2 separate regions of the Homo sapiens genome follow, and region 2 is linked to region 1. The links come from fine-mapping of genetic effects on gene expression. A gene starts in region 1. The other region holds a variant in brackets. All regions are shown on one strand. Distances are from middle to middle. Region 1 holds the start of SLC22A5 (solute carrier family 22 member 5). Region 2 overlaps SLC22A4 (solute carrier family 22 member 4).

Region 1 (5,381 bases):
CATCTGCCAGGGTATGAATGCATTTAATCTAAAGTTCTAGCCCTGAACTGTAGGGTTATCTACCATATAAATCAGTTTTACATTTTTTAATATGTAAAATAGGAACATCCCAATTCAGAATATTGCAGGATAAAGGGCCTCAGGTAACTGATTAAGATTCTAAGCTCTCTTTCTCTTTTAAAAGATGAAATTTAAGGCTGGGTATGGTGGCTCCTACCTATAATCCCAGTACTTTGGGAGGCCAAGACGGGGGGATCACTTGAGGTCAGGAATTTGAGACCAGCTTGGCCAAAATGGCAAAACCCTGTCTCTACCAAAAATACAAAAAAAATAGCTGGGTGTAGCGGCGCGTGGCTGTAGTCCCAGGCACTTGGAAGGCTCAGGTGGGAGGATTGCTTGAGCCCAGGAGGTTGAGGCTGCAGTGAGCCAAGACCACCTCACTGCACTCCAGCCTGGGTGACAGAAGGAGACCCTGTCTCAAAAAAAAAATGCAATTTAAATAGTAATGGCATTCAGATAGTAATCACAGTGCACCTGGAACTGGACGGCACCATCTTAGGTTGCTCTCTGCTTTGCGCATGTGGACAAGCCATCTATGACAAATAGTTTCTTTTCTTCCTAAGGATATGCAGCTTCTTTTGTAGTATACTGCATTGTTTTCAGTCCCTTTCAGGAATGTTATCTGATGCCCAACTGATATTTCTCAAATGTTAAAATAAGACTTCTTCATCTTGTTTGGTCTGGACAGAGGTCAACATTCTTCTCATAAAAGCTTTCATTTCTTTTGAAGCATTAAAATAATATTTTAGCACACAAAAAAGGAGTTTATTTTCAAGAAGCTTTGCTTTCTTTTTCAGTTAGTTCTAGATAAGAACTATAACTTCACATAAGATGTTAGAAGGATTTAAGTACATTGCTGAAGGTATAACCATCCATCTTCAGGAAGTAAGAATAGTGAATAGTAAGTATAAAGAAACAAACAAGTCCTGTGATAACATCTTTATCATAATTTTTTTAAGTCTATTATGCTTTATGCAAATGTTTAGATTTCCTTGTTAAAAATCTGCTGGCCAGGTTAGGTTCCCTTTCTGTAGCTTTATTTTCAACTCATAATATAGTGACTATTAAATATTCTTTACTCAACACATTATATTGTAAAAATATACACTTAGTTCTGTTTCTATCACTAAGCCACTACTATTTTAAAAAGGAATATCTTGCATTGTTAAGTTTAGCAGCCCAAATTCTTAAAGGCCTTAGGAATGGTGCTGTCCAATAAGATAACCAATAGCTACATGTGGCTACTGAGCACTTAAAAAATGAGTCTGGCCAGGCATAGTGGCTCACGTCTGTAATTCAGCATTTTGGGAGGCTGAGGTGGGAGGATTGCTTAAACCCAGGAGTCTGAGACCAGCCTGGGCAACACAGGGATGCCTTGTCTCTGTAAAATAAAAAAAATAAAAAAATTAGCTGGGCACGGTGGCATGTGCCTGTAGTCCTAGCTACTCAGCAGGCTGAGGCAGGAGGCCCACTTAAGCTTAGGAGTTCAGGGCTGCGGTGAGCTATGATTGTGCCACTGCACTCTAGCCTGGGTGACACAGTGGGACCGTGTCTCCAATAAATAAATGAATAAATAAATATTAAAAAATAAAAAGTGTGGCTAGTCCAAATTGAAATGTGCTGTAAAATACACACTGGATTCCTTTTTTTTTTTTTTTCAAATCCTGAGAACCTGTGAAACACACTGAATTCTTAAGATTTAGTATGAGGAGGGGAAAAAAAGATCAATGATTTACATATAACAATGTAAAATATCAATAATTTCTATATTGATTATATGATGAAATGATCATGTTCTGGATATACTTGATTAAATATACCATTAAAGTTAATTTCATCTTTTATTTTTACTTTTTAAATATGCAGCATTGCCCAATAAAATACAGGACAACCAGTTACATTTTTATTTTATATATTCCTGCTTGGGACATAATATTTAAAAATTATTCATTCTATATCTGAAATTCAAATTTAACTAGGAGTCCTATATTTTTATTTGCTAAATCTGGCAATTTTATTAATATGGCTACTAGAAAAGTTAACATAACAAATGTAGCTCCTTATCCTATGGAACATTGCTGCTTTAGAATCACCTCGCTGCTTTTTTTTTTTTTCCAGTTAGCTTCTGAATAAACTCTGCACGGAAATAACTAATCTGTGGGGAATATTTAACCCTAGGCTAGGATCGTTAATCGTGAAGTTAAATTTTTACATCTGCATGAACAAAATGGCTTGTTACAGACGAAAATGTGGAAAGGGCATCTGGACTAGAATGAAAAGTCATAGCTCCCAGCCTCTCTACTAGGGTAGTTAACAGTCCCAGGTTCAAAATAATCCCCGTCCCTCTTATAAGATTAGGCGGTGTCAAGAGCAACTATCTGTGAGACCCTGGGCCAGTGACTTTCTCCTTACCTCCGCCCCCAAGTAGGCCTTGCAAAAAGCTGGGAGGGGTGCGTTTTCAACACTGGAGCTTCGCGGCCGCTCTCCCACTCGCTCCCCGCCCGGCGCTAGAGGAGCGAGTTCGGACTCGGACCCCAAGGCCTCGAGTCCCGCTGCCTTCCTAAGCCGAGCCCGGGCTACCTCGGTCGTCCCCAGCAGGCTTGGCTGGCAGAGGCCGGGCCTCGCCAGGTCCCCAGGACAGGCCCCGCCCGGGCCTCAGGTGCACTCCCGGCCCGCCCCGCGCCCTCGCGTCCCGCCCCAGCTCCGCCTTCGCCGGCGCCGCTCTGCCTGCCAGCGGGGCGCGCCTTGCGGCCCAGGCCCGCAACCTTCCCTGGTCGTGCGCCCTATGTAAGGCCAGCCGCGGCAGGACCAAGGCGGCGGTGTCAGCTCGCGAGCCTACCCTCCGCGGACGGTCTTGGGTCGCCTGCTGCCTGGCTTGCCTGGTCGGCGGCGGGTGCCCCGCGCGCACGCGCAAAGCCCGCCGCGTTCCCCGACCCCAGGCCGCGCTCTGTGGGCCTCTGAGGGCGGCATGCGGGACTACGACGAGGTGACCGCCTTCCTGGGCGAGTGGGGGCCCTTCCAGCGCCTCATCTTCTTCCTGCTCAGCGCCAGCATCATCCCCAATGGCTTCACCGGCCTGTCCTCCGTGTTCCTGATAGCGACCCCGGAGCACCGCTGCCGGGTGCCGGACGCCGCGAACCTGAGCAGCGCCTGGCGCAACCACACTGTCCCACTGCGGCTGCGGGACGGCCGCGAGGTGCCCCACAGCTGCCGCCGCTACCGGCTCGCCACCATCGCCAACTTCTCGGCGCTTGGGCTGGAGCCGGGGCGCGACGTGGACCTGGGGCAGCTGGAGCAGGAGAGCTGTCTGGATGGCTGGGAGTTCAGTCAGGACGTCTACCTGTCCACCATTGTGACCGAGGTGGGTGCCGGCCCCTGCTGGGGCTGAGACCAGGGCTCGGAGGACCTGTCGCGGTCCTTGAACCCGAGCTCCTCTCTCCCAGATGCGCACTGGACGCTGTCACTCCCCCTCCCCCAACGGTCAACACCCTAGCGATGGAGACCCTCCAGCCAGGTGGCTTGGGAACGCTTCACGAGGTGACCTCCAGCCACAGTGTGCTCCTCCCTGCACAGGTGGTCAGTCTGGCCTCCCGTCCTGATGGCCACTTTGAAGAGGGTACCAGGAAGGTCCTGGCGGTCCCTGGGCGATGCTCTATGGCCCTGTGTGTCCAGGACTTACTCTAGTTGGGGTTGGGGGTGGTAAGTAGCAGAGCCAGGACTTGGGCCAGGGGCTATCCCGTTTTTCCTCTAGTCTCTTGATTTCTTTTTAGAAGAGAAGAAATACTTCTCTTTCCTGAACTTTTAAAAGTTAAATAAAGCATGTGTATACAACTGCCTCTTCCCTTTTTCCTCTAGTTACTCCTTCCCCTACCGTCCACAACCCAAAAACGACAATCTGGTCATGCCCTGTAAGTAATTGTTTGCCTTTTCCCATGGTCAGTTGTCAGTCTTTTTTTTTTTTGAGACAGAGTCTCCCTCTGTCACCAGGCTGGAGCGCAGTCGTGTGTTCTTGGCTCACTGCAACCTTCGCAGTCGTGCGTTCTTGGCTCACTGCAATCTTCGCCTTCCGGGCTCAAGTGATTCTCCTGCCTCAGTCTCCGAGTAGCTGTGAGCCACGACGCCCAGCTAATTTTTGTGTTTTTAGTAGAGACGGGGTTTCACCGTGTTGGCCAGGATGGTCTCGATCTCTTGACCTCGTGATCTGCCTGCTTCTGCCTCCAAAGCTGGGATTACAACCGTGAGCCACCACGCCAGGCCGTCAGTTGTCACTCTTTAAGATCCATTCATCTGAAGATGGGTTCAGGGTGACTTGTTGACCTGGAATATTTTCTCAGGTATTATGAGGCAAGGCTGTCGGCCAGATTTAGTTAAAGCATACAGCCTTAGGTCATAGGGTGTAGGGGAGCCTTTCTCATTTCTCATCCCCTTGGATTTTCCCTCTGGGTGGTTTTGTCTGTCCCCTCCGAACCTGTTGGAGCAGTTGTTGGAGCTGGATGTAGGAACATGATGTTAATGATGTATGTGTTTTGTGTCTTTTTTAGACACTGGCACTCTAGCTCCCTGAAGTTTCAGCAGCATTGAGTAAGTAGCCAGTGAATAGCCCTCATTGATAGATAGGCTCACTAAATGTGCAGATGACCAATTCGCAGGTTAGAGAAGGCTTCCCAGAAGAGGAGGCCTCTCCGTGAGCCTAGGGTGTTCAGCTCAGCATAATAGTGAGCTGAAGGCCCCAGTGCAGCAGCAAGAAACCACCCAGCAGGACGGCGGAGTTCACAGAGAGGGGAGAGTTCATAGAGAGGGAGAGTGCCACAGGCCCTGGCACAGCTTCAAGCCCTGCTGGATGTTGGTGCTGAGCCTCCCCTCCTGGAGCCTCAGAGGGGCTTACAGGGGCTCTGGAGATCCCAACTGTGTTGCTTCTTGGCGTCATCACCCTTCAATGGAGTCTGAGAGCTACCCTGGGAGATCCAAGTGTGTGTGCATGTGTGTGTTTTTTCTTTTTGGAAATTTGATGTCCCCAGCATTTGGACCTGCTTTCTCCACATATATGTAGTGGGAGTGTGACCGGAGCCCCACTGGGATTTCTTAGCTAGTGACATAGCTTCAGTGTCCAGAGGCATCATGGCTTGACAAAAGAGGCACTCCTTGGAGGTAGCCAACTGTGCTTTCTGGCCCATGAATCCACAGGAAATTGGAACCTTCAGTTGCCACAAATCCTGGGTCCTAGCCTCACAGGTGGGTGTGTTACCTTCCCGGAAGCCAGTGAGTACTATGAAAGCAGAGGCTGTCCCTGAGGTTGCAGGCAGAGGCCACAGAGGGGAACA
Region 2 (5,381 bases), 64 kb before region 1:
CCTGAGTGACCCTTCTCCTTCCCACAGCCCCTCCACTCCCATCCCTATCTTCCCACTCACACTCACTGGTTCTTCTGCTTTGGTTTAGCCTCCAATGATCACAGAACTCATCAGTGAGGCTTTTCCATCTGTGGTAGCTTTTCTAATATAAAGAAAGAAAGATACTGAGAACATTTTAAGGCTTAGCAGCCTTCTGGCTTAGTTGTTTGTAAATGAAAATATGAGTAGAAGAATTAAACAGCCAAAAAGATAACCCACAAAATGGGAGAAAATATTGACAAATCATATATCTGATAAAGGATTTGTATCTAGAATATAAAAATAACTCTGATAACTCAGCAATAAAAAGACAACCTGATTTAAAAATGGATAAAATCATTTGCCCATTTTGGAGAATAGATGTTTTGCCAAAGAAATACAAATCAATTAGCACATGAAAAGATTCTGAGACTTCGAAGTTAGCAGTGTGAGGAGCGCCAGCGCCATAGACCAGCTCCTCAGTGAAACAGCCATAACTGGTGAAAATACACACACACACACACACATTTAGAGTCTCTGGAAGTTGTCCTAAGGGCATATATTTATTCAAGAAAGTCGACTATACCTTGGCAAGAACAGTGAAGTCTATGATATTTGAGTCATAACTCCTTCAGCCCTCCCCTTCCCCTTCCTCCCAGCACAAGAAAAATGGAAGTTCCACTCTAGGTGGGTATGGCCAAGAAAATACTGTTCTCTCTCCCATCAGCTTCCAAGGAAGGGCTACAGCAGCCCACCAAGAGGGACAACCAATGCCCATCCCCCACCCATCCCTGTATTCTCTTAGCTCCAAACCACAGAAGGTAAAATCCTCGTGAGTGCAACCAGGGGATCATAGGTTCCCATCCTCCACCCACCGCCTATTCATATAGTAGAGACTCTACTCCAGGTGCCACAAGTTGAGAATATTAGAGCCTTGATTGCCCTTATCCCAGCTCATTCATACGGCAGAGATTCCACACCAAGCTCCCACTTCCACTCAGTGTCTGACTCATAAAGTAGGGGTGTCATTCTGAGATAAATGGGCCGCTTTCCCTGCCTACCTCTCTACAACAGGAGCTCAGATATTTTGCCCAGCGGGGAGAGATAATCCAAAAGAACAGAGTTCTAAAGCTGTCCCCACAGGAACGAACTTTATTTGAAATAGAGTGTGTGAAAGGACAGCCTAAGATTGCTCTCAAGAACAATGGAGAATTTAGTGGTAAGCAACTAAAAGGATTCTGGTAACTCCATTAGAGCAACAAATGAACCCATAATGCAGCTAGTTTACCAGGAAAAAACAGAAAACAAACAAACAAACAAAACAAGAAAGAGACAGCTAAGAGCAGCCCTTCTGGAGTCAAAACAAACCTTATAGATTTGCCTCAAAAACTACCACTGCAAAGAGGCTTGACGTCAACTGGATTAGACTGTGGGACAATATATGCCCCCAGGGCATTATTGAAATGAATGAGGCAACTGGCTAGCAATTAGTGAGGCTAACAGCTGGGTGTGATACCAGCAGACACAGACAGCTTAATAGAAAGATCAGACTGGCGTGGTGGCTCATGCCTGTAATCCTAGCACTTTGGGAGGCCAAGGCGGGTGGATCACCTGAGGCCGGGAGTTTGAGACCAGCCTGGCTAATGTGGGGAAACCCCATCTCTACTAAAAATACAAAAATTAGCTGGGCATGGTGGCAGGTCCCTGTAATCCCAGCTACTCAGGAGGCCGAGGCAGGAGAATTGCTGGAACCCAGGAGGTGGAGGTTGCAGTGAGCCGAGATCATGCCACTGTACTCTAGCTTGGGCAACAGAGTGAGACTTCATCTCGGAAAAGAAGAAGAAGAAAGATCAGGGAAATGGGGGTGGAAGAATGTGACAGTACCTAATTTCTACAATATATTATCTAAAATGTCCAGTTTTTAACCAGAAATTACGAGATATGCAGAGAAACAGAAAAATATGACCTATACATGGGGGGAAAACGTGGGCAACAGTAACTGCCTGAGAGGGTCCACATGTCAGATTTTAACAGACTTTAAGGCATAAGGCAGCC[A/G]TTATAAATATGTTCAAAGAATGAAAGGAAGTCATGCTTTTAAAAGTATGATGACAATATTGCATCAAATAGAGAATAGCAATAAAGAGAGAAAAATTACATTTATATTTTTAAAAGCTGAGCCAGACATGATGGCATGTGCCTATAGTCCCAGTTACTCAGGAGGCTGAGGTAGGAGGATTGCTTAAGCCCAGGAGTTCAACCCCAGCCTGGGCAACAGAAAGAGACCTTGTCTCTTAAACAAACAAAACAACTGAATAGAACTTCTGGAGTAAAAGTATACAATAATTGAAATTTAAAAGTAACTCAAGGGCCTTAACAGAAGATTTGAACAGGCAAAAGAAAGAATCAGCAAACTTGAAGATAGAGGATTGGAAATTATGCAATCCAAAGAACAGAGAGGAAAAAGGGAATAAAGAAAATGTATAGAGTCTCAGAGAAATGGGGAACACCATTAAACATAGCAATATATGCATAATAGAATTACTAGGAGAGGAGAGAGAGAGAAAAGGGCAGAAAAAATGCTCAAAGAAATAATGACTGAAAACTTCCCAAATTTGGTGGAAAACATTAATCTACACCTTTCAGAAGCTCAACAAACTCCAAATAGAATGATCACAAAGAGATCCACACCCTGATATATCATGGTAAAACTGCTTAAATAAAAAAAGAGACAAAAACGAAGGGAAAATTTTGAAAGCAGCAAATATATGACTAGGTACATACAAGAGAACTCCAATAAGATCAACGTTTGACTTCTCATTAGAAACCATAAAGGACAGAAGGCAGTGGAGTGGCATATTCTAAGTGCTGAAGGAAAAAAGAAACTGTCAACCAAGAATCATGCATCCAACAAAACTGTCTTTCAAAACTGAGATAAAGAAATTCAAAAATACACAAAACTTGAGAGAATTGTTTCTAGCAGTGATGTCTTACAAGAAATATTAAAGGAGGCACTTCAGAAATAAATTTAACCAAAAATTTGCAAAATGTATACTTTAAAAACTATAAAATGTCATTGAAAGAAATTCCAGAAGGCCTTAACAAGTGGAAAAGCTTCCCATGTTCTGTTCATGGAGCAGAAGACTTATTGTTAGTATGGCAGTGCTCTCCAAATTGATCAATAGATTCAATGCAAAAGATGTTCAACATTAGTTATTAGAGAAATGCAATCAAAACCACAATGAGATACCTCTTTACACCCACTACAATGACTAAAATTAAAGACACACAATAACAAGTACTGGTAGGAATGTGGAGAAATTGAAACCCTCATTCATTGCTGTTGGGATTGTAAAATGGTGTAGCCACTTTGGAAAGCAGATTAGGAGTTCTGCAAAAGGTTGAGTATATACTTACCGTATGACCCAACAATTTCACTACTATGTATATACCCCAAAGAAATGAAAACATGTACACACAAAATGTTGTACATGAATGTTCACAGCAGCATTATTCATAGTAGCCAAAAAGTGGAAACAACCCAACTACTTATCAACTGATGAACAGATCATTGAAAACGTGGTAGACCCAAACCGTGAAATATATATATATATATATATATATATATATATATATATATATATATATATATATATATAGTTGTTGTTGTTGTTGTTGTTGAGATGGAGTCTCACTTTGTTGCCCAGGCTGGAGTGCAGTGGTGTGATCTCAGCTCACTGCAACCTCCACCTCCAGGCTCAAGCAACTCTCCTGCCTCAGTCTCCCAAGTAGCTGGGATTACAGGCACGTGCCACCGTGCCCAGCTAATTTTTGCATTTTTAGTAGAGACAGGGTTTCACCATGTTACCCAGGCTGGTCTTGAACTCCTGACCTCAGGTGACCCACCCGCCTCGGCCTCCCAAAGTGCTGGGATTACAGGTGTGACCCACCGCACCCAGCCCAAACCATGGCATATTATTAAACCATAAAAAGTAATGAAGTGCTGATACACTGCACAATGACATGGATGGACTTAGAAAAGGAGCTAAGTATAAGAAGCCAGTCATAAAACACTATATATTGTATGATTCCATTTATATGAAATGTCCAGAATAGGCAAATTCATAGAGACAGAAAGTAGATTAGTGGTTTCCAGGGGCTAGAGGAAGTAGCGAATGAGGAGTGACTGCTAACAGGTATGGGTTTTCTTTCAAGGGTGATGAAAATTCTAAAATCAGATCATTGCTGATGGTTGCTGAAGTCTGTGAATATACTAAAAATGATTGATTTGTATACTTTAAAAGAGTAAATGTTATGGTGTATAAATCATATCTCAATAAAGTTGTTACAAAAAAGTAATTAACTAGCCATGTTTGTTTTTGTTTTTCTTTGTTTTGTTTTTTCATATTGTCAAGGAATTCCCAGCTTTAAGTCACAATCAAGTGACAAAGATAGAACTGGGGTGGATGTATAGTCCATTATTAACTACTACTTCTTACTTTTCTCTAGAATAAAGGATAACTATGAGAGGATACTATAGAAATCAATCTTTTATTCTTAAAAGGACCATTGCTAATTTTTCACTCACAGTCATCTCTGGGATTGAATTCCATTTATCAAATCCCTTTTATAAGAGCTTTTCTAGCTTTTAGTAATGGACTGGAATAATTTTTATTTCTTAGAATTTCTTTCTCTTAGTCAGATTTAAGTGTAACCTGCTTTGCTTATTCGTCCATGTGTTCCAAGTCATGATTTTGCTCAGGACAAATAAAATGCTCTACTAGTATGAGCCTGGTAGAAAGGGAACTACCATTTAATGAGGCCTGTAATGTGTCAGACGCTCCACTGATATTTCCCATCCAATGCACACAACAAACCTAGGAGCAGGTATTATTGTCATCTTTTTGAAGGTGAAGAAGCAGGCTAATAGAGGTGAATGGATTGCCCAACATCACACAGTCCAAAGTTGCAGACCCCGAGAAAGCCTGTGTTCTTTGCTGAACACCAGGCTACCTTCCAGCGTTCTCAGTTCCGTGCAGGTCAGACGGGGTTCACTTATCTTTATGGTCCTTTATAGCTCTGGTAAAAACTAAAACTGCCAGACTTTGGCTACTTGGAGAGTTAGTTCAAGGCTGAGGGTGATTTTCCAAGTGCAATGCGTGATACTCCTCAGCCCAAGAACCACATTTTCCAGGCTGATTTTCTATGACTCCTAATTAATTGTTCAATATTCATTCAACAATTTGTTAAGCACCCACTGTGTGCCTAGCACTGTGCAAACACTAGTCATCTAAAATATGATTATACGGATTATTCAGGTTTTAGAACTCTGTCCTTCTGCTGGAGGATGGTGAGGAGGGGGTGCC

What was found.
Region 2: its variant is fine-mapped to the expression of SLC22A5 in gastroesophageal junction (GTEx, PIP above 0.99). The same link has a PIP of 0.9 or more in aorta.

What each region holds. Positions count from the first base shown.
Region 1 is chr5:132,366,945-132,372,325 of GRCh38, forward strand. SLC22A5 (solute carrier family 22 member 5) reads left to right here and starts at 2,766. Exons shown (of 10, transcript NM_003060.4): 1 at 2,766-3,421. The coding sequence starts at 3,029. MIR3936HG (MIR3936 host gene) reads right to left here and starts at 2,972. Exons shown (of 8, transcript NR_110997.1): 1 at 2,900-2,972. RefSeq lists a silencer at 2,649-2,968.
Region 2 is chr5:132,302,770-132,308,150 of GRCh38, forward strand. The region is part of intron 1 of SLC22A4 (solute carrier family 22 member 4); the gene reads left to right. Among named protein-coding and RNA genes, the nearest start is that of SLC22A4, 11 kb to the left of the region's middle. The variant A/G (reference allele first, on the strand shown) is at 2,074.